2 linked regions of the Homo sapiens genome follow. The protein of the gene in region 1 purifies or fractionates together with the protein of each later gene. This does not show direct contact. Each region holds a gene or a part of one and is shown on either strand. Other genes may lie near its edges.

Region 1 (3,657 bases):
ATTTTATACATTTCAGAGAGGCAGGAATTGTAGGTAAAATCATAAATCAATACATGGGAGGTGTACTTGCCCTCCCTAAAGAGGCAGGACACCTTGAAGGAGGGGGAGCTTACCGGTCATAGGTGGGTTCAGAGATTTTCTGGTTGACGATTGCTTGAAAGAGTTAAACTTTGTCTACAAACTTGACATCAATAGAAAGAAATGCCTGAGTTAAGGCAGTGTTAGAGGCCAAAGGTATGTAGATGAAGACTCTGGGTAGCAGCCTTCAGAGAGAATAAATGGTAAATGTTTCTTTTCAGGCCTTAGAGGCAGCAGGCTCTCAGTTAATCTCTCCTAGATTCAGGGAAGGCCTAGAAGGGGAGAGGTCTGACTGCATTAATGGAGATTCTCTACAGGTGCAAATTCCCCCCCCACAAAACATGGCAGGGCCATTTCAATCTGTTGGTCCTGTTACAGCCGTTTCAAAATATGTCCACAAAATATATTTTTAGGTAAAATATTTGTATTTCCTTTAGGGTCTGCAATCTGTCTTGTGATGCTATACCAGAGTCGGGTTGGAAAGTAAGCCATTTTATACTGAGTTCATGGAAACTCATCCAAGGAGATTTCATGGTTTGTGGGGTGTGTGTGACTTAACCCCTGCCTCACATGACTTTATAATATGGTATCTTACTACTCCAGAGTCTTTTTGGCCAACCTTATGATCTCAATTTCAACCTAAACTCCAAAAGGGCCTGGCTTCTCTTCCTGTTACGGCCAGGAATTCAGATTTTCAGGTTTCTCTGGGGTCCACTTGGCCAAGAGGGGGTCTGTTGAGTTGGCTGGAAGGCATAGGATTTTATTTCTGGTTTACAACAATTTCCTTAGTGCAGCATTGGAATGCAATGGTAGCAGACTAAATGGAAGCTATCGCGTAGACACATGCTTTGGTTGATACTGCACGATTCAGTTAACCTGAAGTACAATCTAATTCATCCTAGGGAAGGAGGCAGTGAACACAGACACAACTCAGGTAGAGCCCTTGGGATGTGTAAACACCTGAGGAGGTAAAGCAAATTGTAATCTCTCGGTTTATCAGATGTCCCCATTGCCTTACTATTTGGATGCTTTAAAGCAGGGCCTCTCAAACTCCACCCAGCACAGAGGCCTCCTGGGATCTTGTGGAAATGCAGATGCTGATTGCAGGTCAGGATGAAGCTGAGATTCTGCCTTTCTTTTTTTTTTTTTTTTGAAACCGAGTCTCACTCCATTACCCAGGCTGGAGTGCAGTGGCACAATCTCAGCTCACTGCAACCTCTACATCCTGGGTTCAAGCAATTCACCTGCCTCAGCCTCCCAAGTAGCTGGGATTACAGGCTTACCTTGCCACCATGCCTAGCTATTTTTTCTATTTTTAGTAGAGATGGACTTTTACCATGTTGGCCAGGCTGGTCTTGAACTCCTGACCTCAAGTGATCTGCCTGCCTCGGCCTCCCAAAGTGCTGGGATTACAGGCGTGAGCCACCATGCCTGGCCTCTGCATTTCTAACGGGCTCTCAGGGGTCACCATACTACTGGATAGAGGCCACACTTGGAGGAGCAAGGCTCTAAACCGAGGGTCAACATCCATTCCTCCAGACACTGGGAGCTGCATGCACGTGAGTGAAGCCAGTTAAGGGGAAGACAGGCATGCACATCAGCTTCTCCTGCAGCCAAGCTCACACCTGTCCGCTGCTTCCACTGCCTCCTAGAATGAACAGTTACCTTGAGAGTAGGTGAGGCATATACATGCACAGAATCCAAACAATAGGATGAGTGACAATGGCAGAGGAGTCTCCGAGCCAAGCAGCTCCCTGGACAGAAGCAGCCCTTCTCCGGGTTCATTTCTGTCCTCCGAGGCTGACTCATGCACTCAAAAGCTCCCATGCATATACATTTTATAATGGTTTTTACACAAAGGTTAGCAGAGGAGTGGACGTGCTGCTCTGTACCCTGCCTCTTTTGCTGTACCTGGGAGATTGTTCTGCCTCAGTTCTGATGGGGCTGCCTTGTTCTTTTCAATGGCTGCTGAGTATCCCATTTTATGGATGTGGTATATTGAGCCAGCTCCCTTTAAGCGAACAGTTTGTTTGCAGTCTTTTGCTAATGCAGGTGTGTTGCTGTGAATAGGTTTGTTTGTATATCATGTATCTGGAAGCATCAATTCCTAGAAATGAGATTCCTGGTATATTAGGATTGTGCAGGGAAACAGAACCACAGATATATGTATGTAAAGAAGTATATTTCAGCCAGGCATGGTGGCTCATGCCTGTAATCCCGGCACTCTGGAAGGCTGAGGTGGGTGGATCTCTTGAGGCCAGGAGTTTGAGACCAGCCTGGCCAACATGGCGAAACCCGGTCTCTACTAAAAATACAAAAAAATTAGCTGTGCATGGTGGCCCATGCCTATAGTCCCAGCTACTTGGGAAGCTGAGATATGAGAATTGCTCGAACCTGGGAGGCAGAGGTTGCAGTGAGCCAAGATCACACCACTGCACTCCAGCCTGGGTGACAGAGCGAGACTCCATCTCAAAACAAACAAACAAACAAAAAACAAAACAAAACAAAAAACAGAAGGAAAGAAAGAAATATATGTATATTTCAAGGAATTGGCTTCTGCCATTTTGGGAGCTGGCAAGTCCAAAATCCCAGGGCAGGCCAGCAGGAAGAGCAGGCCAGAAATTGCAGCAGGAGCTAAGGCTGAGTCCACAGGCGGAATTTCTTCTTTTTAGGGAAACCTCATTTTTCTTCTTAAGACCCTCAACTGATTGGATGAGGCCCATCCACATCATTGAGAATGGTCTCCTTCACTTAAAGTCAGTGGGTTACACATGTTACCCACATCTACAGAATACCTCCGCAGCAATACCTAGATTCGTGTTTGATGGAATCACTGGGGACTCGAGCCTAGCCAAGCTAACACATGAAACACACCATCACAGCTGGGGAAAGGATGGCTTATTTTAGACTGATAAAGATGACCCAGAGAAGGCCTGCTCCATCCACACTGGCCGCTTTAGTCTGCACTAAAGTTGTTGGTTTTTTTTGTTTGTTTGGTTTTTTTTTGGTGACAGAGTCTCACTCTGTCGCCCAGGCTGGAGTGCAGTGGCGCAGTCTCAGCTCACTGCAACCTCTGCATCCTGAGATCAAGCGATTCTCCTGCCTCAGCCTCCTGAGTAGCTGGGACTACAGGCACGTGCCACCACACTCGGCTAATTTTTGTTTTTTCAGTAGAGACGGGGTTTCACCATATTGGCCAGGCTGGTCTTGAACGCCTGACCATGTGATCCATCCGCCTCAGTCTACCAAAGTGCTGGGTTTACAGGCGTGAGCCACCACGCCCGGCCTTGTTGGGGTTTTTTGACAGCCTAATAGGTGAAAATGACATCTCATTACAATCTTAATTGGCATTCTCTTATGACAACAAGCTGGTACATCTTTTTGTGTGTTGAGGGTTATTTCTATTTCTTGCTCAGCAAACAGTTCATCCAGGAAGAGCTTCTTGGTGAGATAGTAGACCTCTGCGATTTCTGTTGCAGACGATCTACATTTTGTCATTTGCTTTGTCATTTTTGTCTATGGTGGTTTTAGACTATGCGTAAGTTTTCTAGAGCAGAAACTCAAGTTGGATTTGGGCCT
Region 2 (3,657 bases), on another chromosome or scaffold:
CTGAAGTATGCAGACTGACTTTATTTTGCCAAAAATGTGTATATTTAAGTCTTCCAGGTAAGTTATTCTGACCTAAATGCTTTTTTTTTTTTTAAACAAAACCAGGAACCTCAAATCTTGATAGCTCTCAATATAAAAGTGCTACAGAAGATGCTGTCATGGCAGTTCATTTTGGCAATTCCTCACAGCTCAGGAAATGTCTCATTGAAAAGTTATTCTTGCTTCCCTCTCTTCAAAATGATCTAGTAATTACCTAAAGGGATAAAGGGCCAAGGGCAGAACCATCAAATGCTGTTAAGTTTTGTTATGTGTGTCTATGTATATACACAGACACGTTCTCACTTTTACAGACATCCCTCAAAAGGCAAAGCAAGCCAAAACCCACATCTGTTGGAAAAAAAGTTACTGGAAGGTTCATTGGAAATATAATGGTAACAATGTTTCTCTCTGCTGAAGTAAAGCTCACATTCATTTGGGGTACTCAGATCCCACTGCCGAGTCCTACACCAACAAGGTGGATATTTGGAGCAATTATCTAGATAAAGTAAGCCAAAGAAACAATCTAAAATATCCTTAGTTTTGAGGCAAAGCTGCAGGGATTGAAGGTAGGGCTGTGAAGTAGGTATGAAGAGGTTATTTAAATGATCTGAACACTTGGATCAATTTGCATTGACTATGTCTATATGAGCAATCTTTTGAAAACTTGATTACCAAGAAAATATACTCAATTTTTCTTAGGTACCTTTATTTATTTATTTTTGAGACAGTCTCGCTCTGCCGCCCAGGCTTGAGTGCAGTGGTGTGATCTCAGTGCACTGCAACCTCTGCCTCCCAGGTTCAAGTGATTCTCATGCCTCAGCCTCTCAAGTAGTTGGACTACAGGCGTGTACCACCATGCCCAGCTAATTTTTGTATTTTTAGTAGAGATGGGTTTCACCATGTTGGCCAGGCTGATCTCAAACTCCTGGACTCAAGTGAACCACCCATTTTGGCCTCCCAAAGTGCTGGGATTACAGGAGTGGGCCACCATGCCCAGCCTCAATTTTTCTAAGGTACTTTTAAACAAAGGATTTGCTGCCTATCTTCAAGTACTTTTTACCTGATGATTTAACAAACCAAGGTCTGGGGCACTAAAACTATTAGTCAAAACACCACACGAGATTCACCCATGATGTAACATGAATGCCAATGGTCATTTGTATTTTCAGGCTAAGGTTTGGCCTCATATTTATCTCTAAAGTTCCCACTGAGGTTTTCAGATGAGGTTTGCACTGCCATAAGAACTATAAAGTTCTTTTTGGAAAAGGTATTAAGTCATTTGAAAAGTGGAGGCGTTCGTTTTTTAAAAATGATTTAATCAAATTGCAGACAGGTATTTACGACTTAGCTGAAATAGCCTAAGTTAGGTCACAGTGGAATGAAAAATGATGGAGGCAGAACAGGGAATTTTTTAATATCTCCATGTCAGTAGACAGAAGCGTAACTTGAAGCATTTATATCTCTGTAAAGTTTGGCATTTTCCGAAAATGATTTTAAATTTAGTCTTTCCTCTGTATTTCACTGGACATAAAGCTGGAAGTGGAGATATTTCAACAATGGTCACTTTCTAATATAATTCAAATATTTTCTTTGTAATTTTTACCTTTATTATTAGGGAGATTTTATGAGATCAAATAAATGAATCCAAGGTGTCCGGAAGTGATAAGCCAACTGTAATGTAGGTGGAACATGATATGGATATTTTAGATAAGTAGTAAATGATTTTTGTATTATTTGTGTTTGACTTTGCAGTACATTTTTAACTTCACATTTAAATATGTAAGTCTGAAGTTTTGGAGTTCACAGCATTTTTGGCAAATGAACAAAAGGGTGTCTGTAGTGGCCACTTCACATCTATATATAACATATATGCTTACTAATAAATGTCTTCTATAATCTAGAAGACTTGAGTTTATTGACCAGCTCTGTGACCTTGAGCAAGTCATTGTCCTTCTCTGGGCCTCTTTATTTTCTATTTGTAAAATATGAGGTTGGAATAGAGTAGATCCTTTATAAAGTTCTCTTTTAGTTCTTTTTATGTTTATAAATTTACTCTCAAGTTGGCTTATAACTCCTCTGGGGTCAGAGGATATACCTAAGCATTTTCACTTGAAATACCTTTTATGATACTTGATCAAGAGAGTAAGGAAGTGAACAAAATCTTTTTCCTTTCCTACTTTGTACTGAATTAGAGTTAATAAAAATGTTGGTGTCACCAACATGGAAGTTAGGGCAATAGCTGTTCAGCTTTAACCCCCATCCTAAATGAGGCTTCACTATAGCTAGTAAAGTCTTAAGCCCAAGTCACAACGATAACCCTGAGAAGATCTGAAAAGGAATGTACTCCCGTGACATATGACACTGGTTCTTTCAATAGTAGAGATTGATTTACACATATTATCTCTTTAGAACGTAAGTGACAGAAGACTTTTGGAATACAGTTCCATGTCTGGCTAGCCTGTTTTCTGACAAGTTGATAAGGTCACTGCTAGAAAACTTATAAGTTTTCAGAAGTGATATACATTTCTGAGAAAAACATGTTTTTCTTTTTATAAAATGGGGTTATATGCTATTTCTTTTGGTGCTGTTAATATGAGTTAGGAATGTAGCCCAGGTTCTATTATTATTCAAAGTGAATTTGACAATTTGAAAAGCTGAATCTGTAACTTTAGAAACCTTTCTGGAAAGTAACCTGTGATTAAATGTCAAGGCCATTTTATGACAGTCTTAGCGAAGCAGGGGAGAAATTGATTTGAGTAAATAACCACTTCAGATATGATCAAGGAATTATTTTCGGACAACCTCTTGCCAAATGGGTCTTGATGCAGCTTTTTCACTTGATCACTTTTTCCTGGATATGAGGCTTTATTCTTCAAAACCTCCTCCTATTTCTGGCCCCTCCCCCTCCATTTTGCTCTTCTCCAGGCTAGAGACAAAGATGGGAATCCATTCAAATAACAGAAACCACACTTATCAAAAGCTAGTTTGGAGGCATATTTGCAGTTCGAAAGTTCCTCATTTCTCTTACTTTTATCAGAAATTACATACATTAATCTAAATGGATTCCTATTGGTGTTGACATTAAAAAAAACAGCGTGACACCTATTTTACTTTTCTGGGCTACACACTATTTATGTAATCTCTAGGACTCAGACCTAGAGTTGTTTCAGGTCATATGTTAGAGTCTAAACTGAGGAAACCTTTGTGCTAATGTTGGTAAAAGCCGTCCTTGCTCAGCAGGTTCTCAGTGGTTATCAGGTCTAGAATGATGACCATATGCATTATGGACTTTATTTTTTAACTTGAACCACTGTATTCTGATGAGGTACTCTTAAGCTGTGGAAAAGAATTTGTTTGGATGTATAAATGTAGCTTTCTTGGAAGACAGTAGAATTTGGATCACGTTTATAATTCCATGAATCCACTAGGGTTGTTATGATATATATCTAACATAATTTACACATGCAATTCCACTGCCCCCAATGAATATTAAAACTGCAACCTGAATTAGGTTATCTATACCTAAAGTTGCCATTTTTATAAAGCAGTTAATTAAAATGAAGATGCTCTTTTCTCATATTTTGACACTTCAGCAATATGCCATTTTTCTGATAAAAA

Evidence for each region.
Region 2: the proteins of MX1 (region 1) and TRPC5 purify together in Homo sapiens (pull-down; one study listed by IntAct). This does not show direct contact.

Annotation. Positions count from the first base shown.
Region 1 is NC_000021.9:41,453,695-41,457,351, forward strand, and holds part of MX1 (interferon-induced GTP-binding protein Mx1), read left to right. Parts: intron 1-3,657.
Region 2 is NC_000023.11:111,771,694-111,775,350, forward strand, and holds part of TRPC5 (short transient receptor potential channel 5), read right to left. Parts: 3' UTR 1-3,657. UniProt on the Homo sapiens protein: Forms a receptor-activated non-selective calcium permeant cation channel. Mediates calcium-dependent phosphatidylserine externalization and apoptosis in neurons via its association with PLSCR1.